Regions from separate parts of the Homo sapiens genome. Here all the other regions are reported to be linked to region 1. The links are microRNA targets in miRTarBase. Many come from high-throughput screens and were not tested one by one. Region 1 holds a microRNA gene; each other region holds the end of a gene's coding sequence.

Region 1 (5,072 bases):
TTTTAGGGGAGTGTATGGAAGGAAGAGATTTTTAGTAAAATCATGAAATCTTTTCCAAACCATCCACTTTTGGCCCCTTCTTTCCAACCCATCCTGCAAGGGTTTTACCTGGCTCAGAGTGGCCCAGTGCCCCAGACCCCACTAAAATGAATCTGCACGGGTACCTCCACCTAACCCCACAGTGCTCACTGTAGACAGCAGCAGTGAGAGTCTCTGTGACTCCCGTGTATTGACTGCTGGAATCTGGGAATCCACTTGCCCAGTCCCACATAAAATCTCTCCCTAGCTGTTGAGCTTAAGATTTTTCTGGGGGTATCTAGGAGCAAAGATATTGCATTTTTCATACTGAATCCTTTGCATCTTGGGGATGGCTGACAGGCGGAGGTGAATCATAGGGCTCAAGGCTGGAGGGTAGCCACAGCAGCAAGGAAGAAGGGGGTGATGGCTGGCATGAGCACGAAGTGGTACCCATAGGCCACTCACATCTGGAAGGCTGCAATGGTACCACCAATTCAGCTGCCAGCTCAGTTTAGGGGTGATTCCGGGAGACCCAAGGTGGCAGTCCCTTTCCACTGTTGCGGCTACTTGGAGTGAGTAGCCAGGTGTGTGCTGAGAGCTGAAGAAGGAGAGTGGAGGCATGGCTTTGTGCTTTAATTTTTGGTGAAATATGAATTTAACCAGGAGCCAAGAGAGAGCCTAGGACTTCTCCAAGGTGCTTGGCACAATCGGTTTTACACTCCTAGTGTGTCTAGGAACCGAGAGAGAGAAGGGACCTAGCAGCTTGGTACTCAGGGCCCAGGCCAGGGCCTCGCCCAAGTGGAGCATAGCTGAGGAACCTCTGAGTGCCAGGTGTTATGGGTGGGACACCGACCTGCGCTCACCGGGACACTTAATTCTTCCTCCAATCCCTGGTCTCTGCCGCGTGGGCTAGATCTACTGCAAGTGCTGGGCATGGGGAAAGGAAGAGAGAAGTTAAAGGTGAAATGGCTTCTGCTCTCGGCCTCTCCGTGAGCGCTCTCGGCCCTCCTGTGGAGATCGCCACGTCCTATCACACGCGTCCCTAAACCTTGTCACTCGAGCATTCTTGTCTCCCAAACTCTGATGGTCCGCAGTGGGTACTGGGCTCCCTGGGCCCTGGGAGGAAGACGGAGGAGTTTGGGTGAAAGATCAGACGGTGCGCAGCCCTGAGGCTTCTGAGGGCAGAGGGTGCGCTTCCTTGCCCTCGGGGCGGGGAAGCCGTGAACGCCGAGGCCATTGTAAGGCTGGGTGGTGCGGAGCGCGGGAAGGGGGCTGGGATTTGAATGGGAGCCTGTGATTGGCCGATCCCTGGACTGACGTCACTTCCCCGCGGGGCGATTAGCCTGCGAGAGGAGGGCCGGCGGTCCAGTGCGCTGGGGGCGGCCGGGGCGCTCGAGGCTCTCTAAGCGCTCCGCGCGGGTGCCCTACGTGAGCCCCGGGACGCCGTCGAGGCAGGCCGGCAGCGCCGGTGCCAGGACGCACGGAACGGGGAGCAGGGGAGAAATGCGCCGGGAGGGCGAGGGAGGAAGGGAACTGGGCGGGGGCTGCGGGCCTAGGTGGCGGGAGTCAGCGTGTGCGTGTGTCTGTCCATCCCCTCTGGCTCTCCGCGTGCGCCCCAGGATCCGGGCACGGCGTCCGCTCAGGCTCCCGCGCTCGGCAGGCAGCAGCACGTGGAGCCCACGGCGCGGCAGCGGCACTGGCTAAGGGAGGCCCGTTTCTCTCTTTGGTTATCTAGCTGTATGAGTGCCACAGAGCCGTCATAAAGCTAGATAACCGAAAGTAGAAATGATTCTCACAACTTCTGCGTGCGAGCGCCCGCCCCACCGACCGCCCCGGCCCGGCCCGCAAGAGCCAGAGGAGCCGAGAGGAGCCCAGCGCCGGCCCAGCGGACTCCAGCTCGACGGAGCGGCCGCGCCCCGACCAGGTACCTGACCTCGGCTCTCTCTCTGGGGACACTTGCAGTGCCAGCTTTCCCCCAGTCCTCCTCTTTCCTGGTCCCCCACCCCTATCCCCCAGCGCCGGAGCAGGAACCCCAAAGTGGAGCGGGCCGGGGAGAGGGAGGGGGTTGGGGTTGCAGAGGGGTCGCTGGAAGGGGAAGGCGCCAGCCTTCGCCTTCACCCCATAAATCAGGCTGGAACAATCCGCTCCCGGAGCCGTGGACGGGGATTTTGGGATGCAAATGCGATGGGAGAGAGACAGCGGTCGGTAGGGGGTGGGTGGAGGGAGTGAATGGGGTGGGCTGGGGGCTGCCCTGCCGCTAACAATGCGGCCTTTATCGAATTATTCGACGAGTCAGCCCCTGAGCGCCATTAGCATACGGCTGGGGGGTTGCCGGAGCTTCGCCCCTCGGTGAGGTCAAGTTCTTGATAATTTGATCACTTTTCACGGGCTCTGGCAGCTGCCTTTGTGTGCAGTTGGGGGGTCTGTGTGCAGCGTGAAGCGGAGCAGAACTGGCGGGGAGTGCGCTCAATGGCAAGGGGCCAGGGCAGGGGCCTCCCTCCCCGACGGGTCGGCCCTGCCCTGCATACAAACCAAGAGCCGGCGGGTGGGCGGGAGGAACCGAGCTCAGTCTCCCGCTACCTCTACGCCAGCCCCGACCGGGCTGCTCCTGCCCAAGCCTCCCCAACTTCCCGCGAGGTTAAGGTGCAGGCAAGCTCCCAGAGCTCCCCCTCCTCCCTGCCCCAAGAAGTCACGACATAAGATGTATTACAATGTCTAGCAAATAAAAAAGCAATTGGGGGAAATCTGAATTCGTTCCCATGGCAACCCAATGCAGCACACCCGGCCACTCAGGCTCCCAGCCCCTCTTAACTGGGCTCAGGGAGTGGGGCTTGCCCCTGCTCAGTGCGTGGGGGTCCCGGCCCCACACAGTGCTAGGGTCCCTCTCGAGTTTCTCATCTGCCTTCAGGTCACTTTCCACCCTGATGCCTTGGCTTGTCCTGAAGCTCAGGGCCCCTGTAGCTTGGGAAACCTCCCAAGCTCCCCAGCGAGTGGCTGTAGACCAAGGAAGGGACCCTGCCCGGCTTCAGGGAAGAAAGGAAGAAAGGTAGGCTCAGACTCCCCGATTGGTAGGGGGGCTTTCTAAGTATATGGGTATGTGAGTGCTATGATAGACAGGCTGAAAGGAACTGGCACCACCACCCAGCCCTGACCCCCATCCCCTCACCCTTTTACATGAGAGGAAACAGATCTGGGGATCTGAAGTGACTCCCTAAGGGTCACACAGCTCAGAAGGCAGAGCTGGACCCCAGGCCACCTTACGTACATCTTGGCTCACTTCACTCCCTGGAGCCTCTCCCTTAGTGATTTTCACGGCCCCTCTTCTCCCAGCCTTTGCCCAGCCCTCTTGTAAAAATAGAAATATTTTTTCCATCTTCACTCCTGCAAACCTTTTTTGTTCTTTGCCTAACAAAATTATTTTGAATATAGGGTATATATGTAAATGGTGAAAATTCAAACAGTACAAAAGGAAAACCCCTTGGCTCTGGGGAGGAGAACTGTGTGGCTGAGGTGGATGGTAGAGGGAGACTTTTCACTGTATACCTTTGGAATTGTGAACCCTGTGAGTGTGTTAGCATTCACAGTAAAATTAAATAAAAAATACACACAAAAGACCAGGCAGGGAAAGTCAGCTGCCCTCCTACTTTGGTCCCCGGTTCTCCTCAGAGATAATCATGGGCAGAAGGTTTTCTGAATCCCTTTGTACCCCACCTCCATTTTGAAAGGCCAGTTTCCCTTTTTTTCTGACAGGAGGCTGGTGAAGGGTGACTAGAGTGTTTCGGGATTCACGAGGCTATGGGCTGCATCCCTTGGGCCGTCCCTCCCTTCCCAATGCACCTGGGAGCCTGTGTGCTGATGGTGACCTCATTTCGGAGGAAACCGGAGCAGCACTTCCTGCCCCCTTGCCCTGCACTCCCTGCCTTCCTCCCTCACCGGCCAACGGGTGTGGGCAAACCCTGGGCCCCGGGCTTCGATCTTCCCCTCCCACCACCCCTACCCGTTTGCTGTGTTGCAAGAACTAGTCCTTCACTTGCCAGGGTGGCTTTGCAGCTTCCCAGCAGTGTCTACACAGTTCAGATGAGTGTTGTTGTTAAACACCACTGTCCCATACCATCTGGGCAGGTCTGAAACCCGAGTTGAGGGTCTGATGAAGGAGGAGTCTGTGCGGGAGGGCAACGCGGCATTTTCCCGCTTTCTACGAAAATCTGTTGATGCAAACCTCCCGCTTCAGAGAAAGATCGCGGCAGCAGGGCTGCGGAGGGCGATGAGCATGCCAGTTCTAATCTCCAGGAGCCCATCCCACACCTTCCTTAAACGGCCCTCGGAGAGAGGCCAGAGGCCAGAGGCCAACCCATCCGATTTCGGCCTCCTGGTACGAATGCCTGCCCCTACTAGAGCAATGTTCGAATCCCCTTTGGACACTTAAAGCCCAAGGCACAGACTCAAAATTGGTGCCTGGGCCCATCAACGTCTTCTGGCCTGCCTGGACCTGGAGTAGCCGGACGGGTCTGGGGCCTTCTCAGTCCCTCGTCTCCTCCATTCCTGTGCCCCAGGAAGGCCTTCCCCAAGCCTCCTCTGGCCACTGGCTCCCCACGTTTGGGCTTCATTTTTGTCTCCGGTTTGTGCTACTCTTTCTTCATCCAAAAAGGCGTTGGAGATCCCGAGAATCTGCTGCAGCTTGGAAGCCAGAATCTTAGAGAATCTCGGATACTTCTCACCCCATTCCTTTCATTTTACACCTAGAAATGGTGTAAAAAGGCCCAGTGGCTCACGGAAGGTCGCACAGAAGGCCACTGACAGGGCAGCGATCAGTACAGCCACCGTGGTGGGCGAGGCATCCGGGGCTTCCTTTTCTCTGGTCCACGAACTCCCAACTCCGAACGCTGTGGGACTGCATGGGCCTCTGCCCGGGCCAATGAAATGCGCTGCCGAGAGGAGGCTGCGGCGCGGCCTGAGGCCGGATCTCCACAGGCCGGAGAGTTCTCTGCCGGCCGCGGCCGGACCTCCCGGGAAATGGGACCAGAGCGCGGAGGGAGCCTGGCCAGGAGGCCTCC
Region 2 (5,064 bases), not on the chromosome of region 1:
TGTGTGCTGTAACCCTGGATATGTGCCATTGTACATTTGTCAAAACCCATAGCATGTGGAATAACGAGAGGGAATCCTAACGTCAGCATGGGCTTTGGGTTTGTGGTGTATCACTTTGGATGATGGTGTATCACTGTAGGTTCATCAGTTGTAACAAAAGGACGGCTCTGGTGAGGAATGTTGGTAGTGGGGAGGCTGCGGTGTTGGGGGGCATGGATTATATGGGAAATCTCTGCACTTTCTGCTCAGTTTTGCTGTGAACCTAAAACTACCCTAAAAAATACTCTAGTAAAAAAAATAAATAAATAGAGACCCAGCATGGTGGCTCACACCTGTAATCTCAGTGCTTCAGGAGGTCAAGGAGGGAAGATCATTTGAGGCTAGGAGTTTGAGGCCTGGGCAATATAGCAAGACCCTGTCTCTACAAAAAATAAAAATACAGAAACTTAGCTGAGTATGATGGTGTGAGCCTGTAGTTCTAGCTACCTGGGAGCATTGCTTGAAGCCAGGAGTTTGAGGCTGCAGTGAGCTATGATCGCACCACAGCACTACAGCATAGGCAACAGAGTGAGACTCTGCCTCTATTAAAATATATATATTTCTAGGGAATCATCATTAAAAAGGTTGTCACTGCAGACTCTGTCTTCATAATTCGGTAATAATGTTTCTATAGTCCATCTATTTCCAACAAACATATGAAATGGTTTACAGTAAAAGATGTATGTAATAGTACAAATAAAAAGCATGTTTAAAAAAGTAAAGCTTTATGGAAAAAAGAGAGGGACAGTTAATCCTAAACCTGGGCTAATGTGATTTCTGGTATTGAATAGATTTACTTTTGAATTTCCTGAAAGTCAAGGCAAAATTTAAAATATCAAACATTAAAGTTTTTATTAAAGTTTGTTGTTGAAAAACAAACCAGCTACCATTTTTAGGAGGCTCAAACTTTTTCCTGATAGTCATTTTTAAATATATGAAGAGAACATCCATGCAATGACAGTCTTCAATTCCAGTTTTATCGGTGGCTGGGGCCGGGCAGTGCTCCCTGTGGCTCTCCAGTCTCTGCCGGGGGCCGGGGGTTGGGAGCAGGATGGAGGCAGGGCTGGGGGAAGATGCCTCACGGTGATCCCTCCTGTCGTGCTTCCTCCCTCCTCTGAGGCTAAGGACTCCTGGGGAGAGAGTGCAGCACGGAGACCGCACAGCCGGCCCCATGCACAAAGCTGTGCCCGGTGCCTTCCTAAAGAGCGCGCCGCCTGCAGAACGGGAGGCCTCCTCCCTGCTTCGTCTTCTGCGCCCCCTCCTGCTCTCTGGATCCTCTGGCTGCTCTGATCATTTTATCTTGGATGAGGGTTCAACCTTTGAATTCCCTAAGACAGTATTTTAACTGACTCCTTACGATAACTTGTTTATTATGGTTTGAAACCGCGCCCACACTGAAAGGGGACCAGTGCTGGCAGAACTTCAGGTACTGGTGAGAGGTTTGTAAAGGGATAGGAGCATCCAAGCCGAGATGAAAAATACACCAAGCCTTCTGCTGACCTTCCGCCGCCAACAGCACCTTCTCTCCTAAGGATGCTCCCTGGCCGCCAGACTTTCTGTGCAGTGCGCAGCCTGTGTTCACTGACAGGAAAGAGCGATTTCAGCGCGTGTCATTCTAAACAATGATTTCTTCTCCGTGTCTATGAAAAAACAAGGTTTTTTTTTCTTTCGGATAAACAAAACAAAAACCCAAAACCAACAGATAATCTAACCTTAATCACAAAGGTGGTCCGAGTTATTTAGTAGGTACAGAGTAGAAAGATATGGTTAAGGCTGGGCGCGGTGGCTCACGCCTGTAATCCCAGCTCTTTGGGAGGCCCAGGGGGGCGGATCACCTGAGATCAGGAGTTCAAGACCAGCCTGGCCAACATGGTGAAACCCCACCTCTACTAAAAATACAAAAATTAGCCGGGCGTGGTGGTGCGCGCCTGTAATCTCAGCTACTCAGGAGGCTGAGGCAGGAGAATCACTTGAACCCAGAAGGCGGAGGTTGCAGTGAGCCGAGATCGCGCCATTGCACTTCAGCCTGGGCAACAGAGTGAGACTCCGTCTCAAAAAAAAAAAAAAAAAAAAAAAGATATGGTTAAATTTGCACAGCTACACTCTCAAATAAGAACATGATATGTTAATTTGTATATCGTTTTAAAATAGCACTGGCTCTCCGCCAAACACATAAGAGATGGGATTTTCTAGCTTTGTAGTCATCTTCTGTACTGTCTCTGGTCAGCATAGTGGCTTTATGCACGTCTGTATCTCGGCTTTCACTTCTCAGACGGGATTCCCTGCAAGTGGCACCTACTCAGTGAATTCTTCTCTGCCGGAAGACCCTGCAGGGCTCGTGCCTGCCCAGGTTGGCTCTTCCCTCACCTCCAGGCGTTAGCTCAGTACACCTGGCCACAGTCAGAGCATCCTTGGCCAGCGCAGGCTCCTGTGCAAAGTGGGGGGCCTGTATCCCCAGCCCCACACTGAGTTCCCTGCTCACACTTCCTCTGGGCTCCGCGGGTGGGCCACACCTGGTTCAGGATCTCCCTAGGCAGCCGTTGCCTCAGGAGAATGCTGGAGGACATTGTTCCCTTTTCCTCCCTCCACTCGGTGCCCCAGGGCTGTGCTGAGGCGCCCGAACCCTTAAGGTGTGGCTGGTGCCAACTGAGACCTGCTGTGAGTACAAGACACCCTGCATTTCAAATATTGGGTACACATAAAGGAATGTGAAATCTCAATCATTTTCATTCTGATTACACATTGAAACGATAGTATTTTGGATACATTGGGATAAATAAAAGATTATTAAAACTAATTTTACCTGCTCCTTTTCAAAGTTTTACATGTAGCTACTAGAAACTTTAACAGTACTCATGTGGCTGGCAGATCTTGCTGTTGGCAGTGTTGCCGAGAGGGACAGCAGGATGGAGGCAGCCCCCCCAGAGGCAGCTCCCAAAGTCCCCATTTCCAGGTCACCTTCCAGCTCCCAAGGGTGAAGGAGGCCAGGTGGCTCCCCCAGCAGTGCGCCTCCCTGTTCGCCGCGATGCTGACAGGACTGAAAGCACACACAGCAAGTGGGGTGTACGGCTGGCTGAGGGTTCCACGTCTCACAATGCATGTCTTTACCTCTGGTTTTCTGCCACAGACTCTGGATCCCAGGGGTCCAAAGGGAATTGCAAAGGGGAAGAATTCAGTCTTCCTTTTCTCCTCTGTGGCTTCCTGTGGCTGTGTTTGCAACTAGACTGTTCCAGACAGCTCCACAAAAGACAGCTTCCTCCCTGGTTGCTTGCTCACTTATGTGCCCAGTGCCTGGGCCCGGCAGCCACACTTCTGTCTCTGCTGCATTTGTACTTGAGTTTCCTGAACACCCTCTAAGTGGCCAACACTAGTAATGAATGCAGAAACATGAAAGAATATTCTCTCAATACATTTCAGGGTGGGTACTCATCAGATGAACACATTTTCAGTTACTAAGTTAATGACAACAATTGAAGACATTGGAAATTTTTATTCATCTTTGCTTTACAACAGAACCAAAAGCGTCAACTTAAGAATTCATTTTACCTGCTGGTTTCCACAAGCTAGTTATGTGAACCATGTTTTACAAACAATAATAATATTACAACAATAATTATGGAGAAGTTAATTGGATAATAGAGCTTTTCCACAATTCAAGTAGAAACACAGAAGAAACTGGATAATTTTAAGTCCTCTAACTCAAGACATGCTGGTGCAAGCCTGGCCTGCGAGGCCCCATTGCCTGCGTCTCCCGGGGGCCTTAGGAAAGACTGACAGTTCGCGTGCCTCTGGGGAAATATCTACGCTACAGAAAATCTTTAGGTGTTCAGTAGTTCTCTAGAGATTTTAAGTGGTATCACAACAGCCCATCCGGAGAACTTATTTCTAAATAATTTGAAAAACAAACAAGAAACCATTAGGGTTTTCATGCAGAGCAGCCTCCAGAGCAACATTCTCTGAGAGGAAGAGTCGACCAGAGTGAGCTCTCCGCAGGGCCTGCTCTGCCCTCCCCTGCCCCGCTCTGCCCTTCGCAGGGCCTGCTGTGCCCTCCCCTGCCCTGCTCTGCCCTCCGCCGCCCTGCAGACACTCTCCCAGGACTATGGGAACCCAAGCTCTCTCCTCTGGGCCAGACAAACAATGCTCAGGCCATGCACCTCCTCAGAAAAGGGGGCATGGGTTGCCACATCTTCAGAGAGCTCTGAGTAAACTCCCTGGGCCCAGGGATGCAGGGGAGCCTGGTTGTTGCTGCAGAGCCAGCCTCATGTTCCCCTAAACATCCTTTCTAAACTAGAGATTTCTAGACTAAGACAAAATCAACATGCATTCACACTTTATACTCTACTCCATTTTCAATCCCTTAGATTTAAACTCAGTGTGGAGAATCTGTGATAAGCACCTTCCAAATTCCTCCAGGATCATCTGCTCTGCCAGGCACTTGGAGCAGTGTTCTTTCTCGGCCTCTTCTCCCTGAGCAAGCAGGCAGGCGCATGTGGCCTCCACCACCTCCCAGGAGATGCATGAGGAAGGCCGCCTGTCAGAAACAGAGCAGTTAAAGGCCGCTCAACAGTGCACCATTTCTACCTACAGTACTATTTATATTCAACAGAACATTGCTTGTCCATGCTATTTTAAAGAACATCATCCACTAAAATCTAACGTTGTCTTCCTCATACTGGAAACTATTAGGCTGGGCACAGTGGTCTGTAATCCCAGCACCTTGGGAGGCCAAGGCAGGAGGATGGTCTGAAGCCAGGAGTTTGAGACCAGCCTGGGCAACAAAGTGAGACCCTTTTTTTTTTTTTGATACTGAGTCCTGCTCTGTTGCCAGGCTGGAGTGCAATGGCACGATCTCGGCTCACTGCAACCTCCAACTCCCTGGTTCAAGTGATTCTCCTGCCTCAGCCTCCTGAGTAGCTGGGATCACAGGCATGCACCACCACACCTGGCTAATTTTTGTATTTTTAGTAGAGACAGGGTTTTGCCATGTTGGCCAGGATGGTCTCGATCTCCTGACCTCATGATCTG
Region 3 (5,064 bases), not on the chromosome of region 1:
ACCGCCTCACCTACATCGAGCCCCGGATCCTCAACTCTTGGAAGTCCCTGACAAGCATCACCCTGGCCGGGAACCTGTGGGATTGCGGGCGCAACGTGTGTGCCCTAGCCTCGTGGCTCAACAACTTCCAGGGGCGCTACGATGGCAACTTGCAGTGCGCCAGCCCGGAGTACGCACAGGGCGAGGACGTCCTGGACGCCGTGTACGCCTTCCACCTGTGCGAGGATGGGGCCGAGCCCACCAGCGGCCACCTGCTCTCGGCCGTCACCAACCGCAGTGATCTGGGGCCCCCTGCCAGCTCGGCCACCACGCTCGCGGACGGCGGGGAGGGGCAGCACGACGGCACATTCGAGCCTGCCACCGTGGCTCTTCCAGGCGGCGAGCACGCCGAGAACGCCGTGCAGATCCACAAGGTGGTCACGGGCACCATGGCCCTCATCTTCTCCTTCCTCATCGTGGTCCTGGTGCTCTACGTGTCCTGGAAGTGTTTCCCAGCCAGCCTCAGGCAGCTCAGACAGTGCTTTGTCACGCAGCGCAGGAAGCAAAAGCAGAAACAGACCATGCATCAGATGGCTGCCATGTCTGCCCAGGAATACTACGTTGATTACAAACCGAACCACATTGAGGGAGCCCTGGTGATCATCAACGAGTATGGCTCGTGTACCTGCCACCAGCAGCCCGCGAGGGAATGCGAGGTGTGATTGTCCCAGTGGCTCTCAACCCATGCGCTACCAAATACGCCTGGGCAGCCGGGACGGGCCGGCGGGCACCAGGCTGGGGTCTCCTTGTCTGTGCTCTGATATGCTCCTTGACTGAAACTTTAAGGGGATCTCTCCCAGAGACTTGACATTTTAGCTTTATTGTGTCTTAAAAACAAAAGCGAATTAAAACACAACAAAAAACCCCACCCCACAACCTTCAGGACAGTCTATCTTAAATTTCATATGAGAACTCCTTCCTCCCTTTGAAGATCTGTCCATATTCAGGAATCTGAGAGTGTAAAAAAGGTACCAATCATTGATTTTTTTTTTTTTTGTAAACTAAAATGTTTAAAATAAAATAGCATTTACAGTTTTTACAGACTGGTGTAACCTAAATGAATTGTTACCTGTGTTACAAGAAAAGCAACAGTTAAAATTTCCTTGGTGGGTGGGGAGGGAGTTGTCCAGGGGCCAGAAGGAAAATCCAGGAGCAACGTAGTCAGATTCAATTTGAAATTTTAAAGAAGGGCAAAGAAAGCTTATCAGATTAATGATTTATGTTAATTTACTCCACATGTGTAAGGACTAGAAAAAGAAAAACTGCAAGACCCTTTATATTACTGGGGCAGGGACAGTGCAATCTAACCACCTTCAGGCAACTGAGAGGTGGACTGAGGACTGGGCACCCTTACTCAGCCTTTAAAGCAGAGAGCATTGCAAATGGTTTTTAAAAAGCAATGCCAGACAGTTTCTCCTAGGAACACGAAACATTTTTGCACTTAATGTAACCATCTTTCAAATCACCTCAAAATCTCATCCCCAAATGCCACCTGTTCTTAATTCTCCTGAGTCTTTGATTCACCAGACTTAGTAGCATTTGTGCCCTTCTTGTACCCCCTGTTAAAGGGAGCCCCTCAGCTCACTGCTCTCTTTGGTCTGGCTGAGGGGAAGGAGGCAGAATCCCGATGTTTAGGGCTGAAAGCTGTGCTTCTGGAGCACATTGCTAAGACTGCAGCAAGCTTAGGCTCCCAAACAGTGACAGCACATTCCTAGTTTCTATGGGGAATGAGGAGAAAAACCTACCTTAGGATGAATGCCTGCAGGGTAATGACTTGTAGCAAGAGACTTTAGGGGCAGAGGTGACAGAGCAGTGATGGGGTGGGGAGAGTGGGAGAAGATACTCATTTGATCCTGTGTTTGCATATTTCTGAGATGGGAATAATTTGTTAACCCAGGACAGAAAAGCTGCCTCTTCTCAGATGGCCCTTTTGTGTAATGCTTGCTTTCCCTTTTTTTTTTTTCTGTGTTGAGAGTGATGATTGCTCCTTCTCACCCCTCATAGGTTTCCAGGTCCATCATTGAGATTTCAGTTTCTATTGAACTAAAGAGTGAGGAGGTGGTGGTAGTGGCAGTTGGTGGGTGCAGAGAAGGGAAGGGGAAGGCTGTGTGCATTGGACGGAGGGCTCCTTCATCAGATGACAATTTAAGCAAATGTATGATTGAAATAAACTGTCATGGATGACAGATGCTGAACCAATGTAGCCCATGTCCCTAAGTCTTTCTCTTCCCTCTCTAACGGACACTAAAGAGTTGCATCTTTCTGTTTTTATTTTTCCTTTTTTTTGAGAGAGAGAAGTCCAAATAGCAGGAAGAGGGAATGGGGGGATGGGGAACCACACACTACCATCCCCCAACATGCAAATGTCTCCAGCTACCAATCTTAGGAGGCAAAATCAGCTTTTTGAAATGCAGAATGGTATCACCAGAAGGTTTCCTTAAGCTAAGGGTTGGTGGTAGGTTTCTCTTTTACCTATGGAGAAACCAGTATGCCTAAAAATAGTATTTCTAAGAGTCTCTTTCAAGAGAAATATTTTGCAAATGTCTTTTAAGATGTTAAGCCCTGGGAGACAGCTTCTTACACACACACACACACACACACACACACACACACACACACACACACACACACCCCAACACCCCAGCTCATTTTTCCTGGCCAGGAAACTTCATCTTGCTTTATTTATAATTAAAACATGACATTATGACACACATCATGCACATGACACCCATTCAGACTATTAGTGTTCTAGAAGAGAGGTGCTTTGTTTGATAACTTTGAGGAGGGGGTTTTGAATTTAAGCATAATCATTTGGGTTTGCCTTTCTAAATAGCATACCACTCCAAGAGCAGGGGTAGCAGGAAAAAGATTCTCTCAGGGATGTGCCTTACCTAAAACCCTACTAAAGCGACCTCCTCTAGAAGACGGCATACCTTTTTTAGAAAACAAAAAATGTAGCAACTGAAGGAGGGCTCCTTGGATTCCGTGAACTTAACCATCTCATAGGAAGGCTACAGGAATCCAGCGCCCAAAGCTGCTTTGGCTTGGTGCATTAAAGAGCTGTGTGGGTGTGCTTACAGGGAAAGCTTTCAGAAGCAAAACCTTTCTGGCAAGCATCAGAACCACAAGTCCCCTCCTACCCTCTAGAAATCTGAATATTGGAAACTGTAGTTTATCTCCTATCCCCAAGACATTTTTATCTTTCACTCTTCTTGTTTCAAGGTGGCCATAAGACAGAGAGAGAATAATCGTGCTTTGTTTTATGCTACTCCTCCCACCCTGCCCATGATTAAACATCATGTATGTAGAAGATCTTAAGTCCATACGCATTTCATGAAGAACCATTGGAAAGAGGAATCTGCAATCTGGGAGCTTAAGAGCAAATGATGACCATAGAAAGCTATGTTCTTACTTTGTGTGTGTGTCTGTATGTTTCTGCGTTGTGTGTCTTTGTAGGCAAGCAAACGTTGTCTACACAAACGGGAATTTAGCTCACATCATTTCATGCCCCTGTGCCTCTAGCTCTGGAGATTGGTGGGGGGAGGTGGGGGGAAACGGCAGGAATAAGGGAAAGTGGTAGTTTTAACTAAGGTTTTGTAACACTTGAAATCTTTTCTTTCTCAAATTAATTAATCTTTAAGCTTCAAGAAACTTGCTCTGACCCCTCTAAGCAAACTACTAAGCATTTAAAAGAGAATCTAATTTTTAAAGGTGTAGCACCTTTTTTTTATTCTTCCCACAGAGGGTGCTAATCTCATTATGCTGTGCTATCTGAAAAGAACTTAAGGCCACAATTCACGTCTCGTCCTGGGCATTGTGATGGATTGACCCTCCATTTGCAGTACCTTCCCAGCTGATTAAAGTTCAGCAGTGGTATTGAGGTTTTTCGAATATTTATATAGAAAAAAAGTCTTTTCACATGACAAATGACACTCTCACACCAGTCTTAGCCCTAGTAGTTTTTTAGGTTGGACCAGAGGAAGCAGGTTAAATGAGACCTGTCCTCTGCTGCACTCAGAAAAAATAGGCAGTCCCTGATGCTCAGATCTTAGCCTTGATATTAATAGTTGAGACCACCTACCCACAATGCAGCCTATACTCCCAAGACTACAAAGTTACCATCGCAAAGGAAAGGTTATTCCAGTAAAAGGAAATAGTTTTCTCAACCATTTAAAAATATTCTTCTGAACTCATCAAAGTAGAAGAGCCCCCAACCTTTTCTCTCTGCCTTCAAGAAGGCAGACATTTGGTATGATTTAGCATCAACAACACATTTATGAGTATATGTAAGTAATCAGAGGGGCAAATGCCACTTGTTATTCCTCCCAAGTTTTCCAAGCAAGTACACACAGATCTCTGGTAGGATTAGGGGCCACTTGTGTTTCCGGCTTATTTTAGTCGACTTGTCAGCAAGTTTGATGCCTAGTCTATCTGACATGGCCCAGTAGAACAGGGCATTGATGGATCACATGAGATGGTAGAAGGAACATCATCACATACCCCTCTCACAGAGAAAATTATCAAAGAACCAGAAATTATATCTGTTTTGGAGCAAGAGTGTCATAATGTTTCAGGGTAGTCAAAATAAACATAAATTATCTCCTCTAGATGAGTGGCGATGTTGGCTGATTTGGGTCTGCCATTGACAGAATGTCAAATAAAAAGGAATTAGCTAGAATATGACCATTAAATGTGCTTCTGAAATATATTTTGAGATAGGTTTAGAATGTCAAAAAAAAGGAATTAGCTAGAATATGACCATTAAATGTGCTTCTGAAATATACACACACACTCCTACCTCTCAATCTATCTCTGTATATATAACAGCACACACACAAATATGCACACATGTGTGTGTGTGTATATATATATATAATATATAATATATAAAACCACATAGTACCACACACACACACATATATAACCACACACACACACCCATACACGCGCAGGCAGGTGACCATTATGTAACTACCTTCTAGCACTAATCATCCTAATACTTTCTTCTTCATAATCAAACTTTTA

The links. Region 1 holds the annotated microRNA hsa-miR-9-5p (UCUUUGGUUAUCUAGCUGUAUGA, at 1,739-1,761, shown strand). A microRNA usually pairs through its seed, bases 2 to 8, with sites in the 3' UTR of a target mRNA and lowers its output. Matches are read on the target gene's strand: a 7mer-m8 pairs with bases 2 to 8, a 7mer-A1 pairs with bases 2 to 7 and ends in A, and an 8mer does both.
Region 2: the mRNA of TESMIN is a reported target of hsa-miR-9-5p. The part of its 3' UTR that is shown has no 7-base or 8-base seed match.
Region 3: miRTarBase lists LRRTM1 as a target of hsa-miR-9-5p. The part of its 3' UTR that is shown has no 7-base or 8-base seed match.

Annotation. Positions count from the first base shown.
Region 1 is chr15:89,366,294-89,371,365 of GRCh38, forward strand. It overlaps MIR9-3 (microRNA 9-3), which reads left to right and starts at 1,724; the gene lies at 1,724-1,813. All of the region lies in intron 1 of MIR9-3HG (MIR9-3 host gene), which reads left to right. RefSeq lists enhancers at 1,331-1,944, 3,754-4,636, 4,637-5,072.
Region 2 is chr11:68,703,931-68,708,994 of GRCh38, forward strand. It overlaps TESMIN (testis expressed metallothionein like protein), which reads right to left. Exons shown (of 10, transcript NM_004923.3): 10 at 3,510-4,570. The coding sequence ends at 4,378. Among named protein-coding and RNA genes, the nearest start is that of GAL, 22 kb to the left of the region's middle. RefSeq lists an enhancer at 2,789-3,547.
Region 3 is chr2:80,297,888-80,302,951 of GRCh38, reverse strand. It overlaps LRRTM1 (leucine rich repeat transmembrane neuronal 1), which reads left to right. Exons shown (of 2, transcript NM_178839.5): 2 at 1-1,074. The coding sequence ends at 701. The region is part of intron 7 of CTNNA2 (catenin alpha 2); the gene reads right to left. Among named protein-coding and RNA genes, the nearest start is that of LRRTM1, 4.3 kb to the left of the region's middle.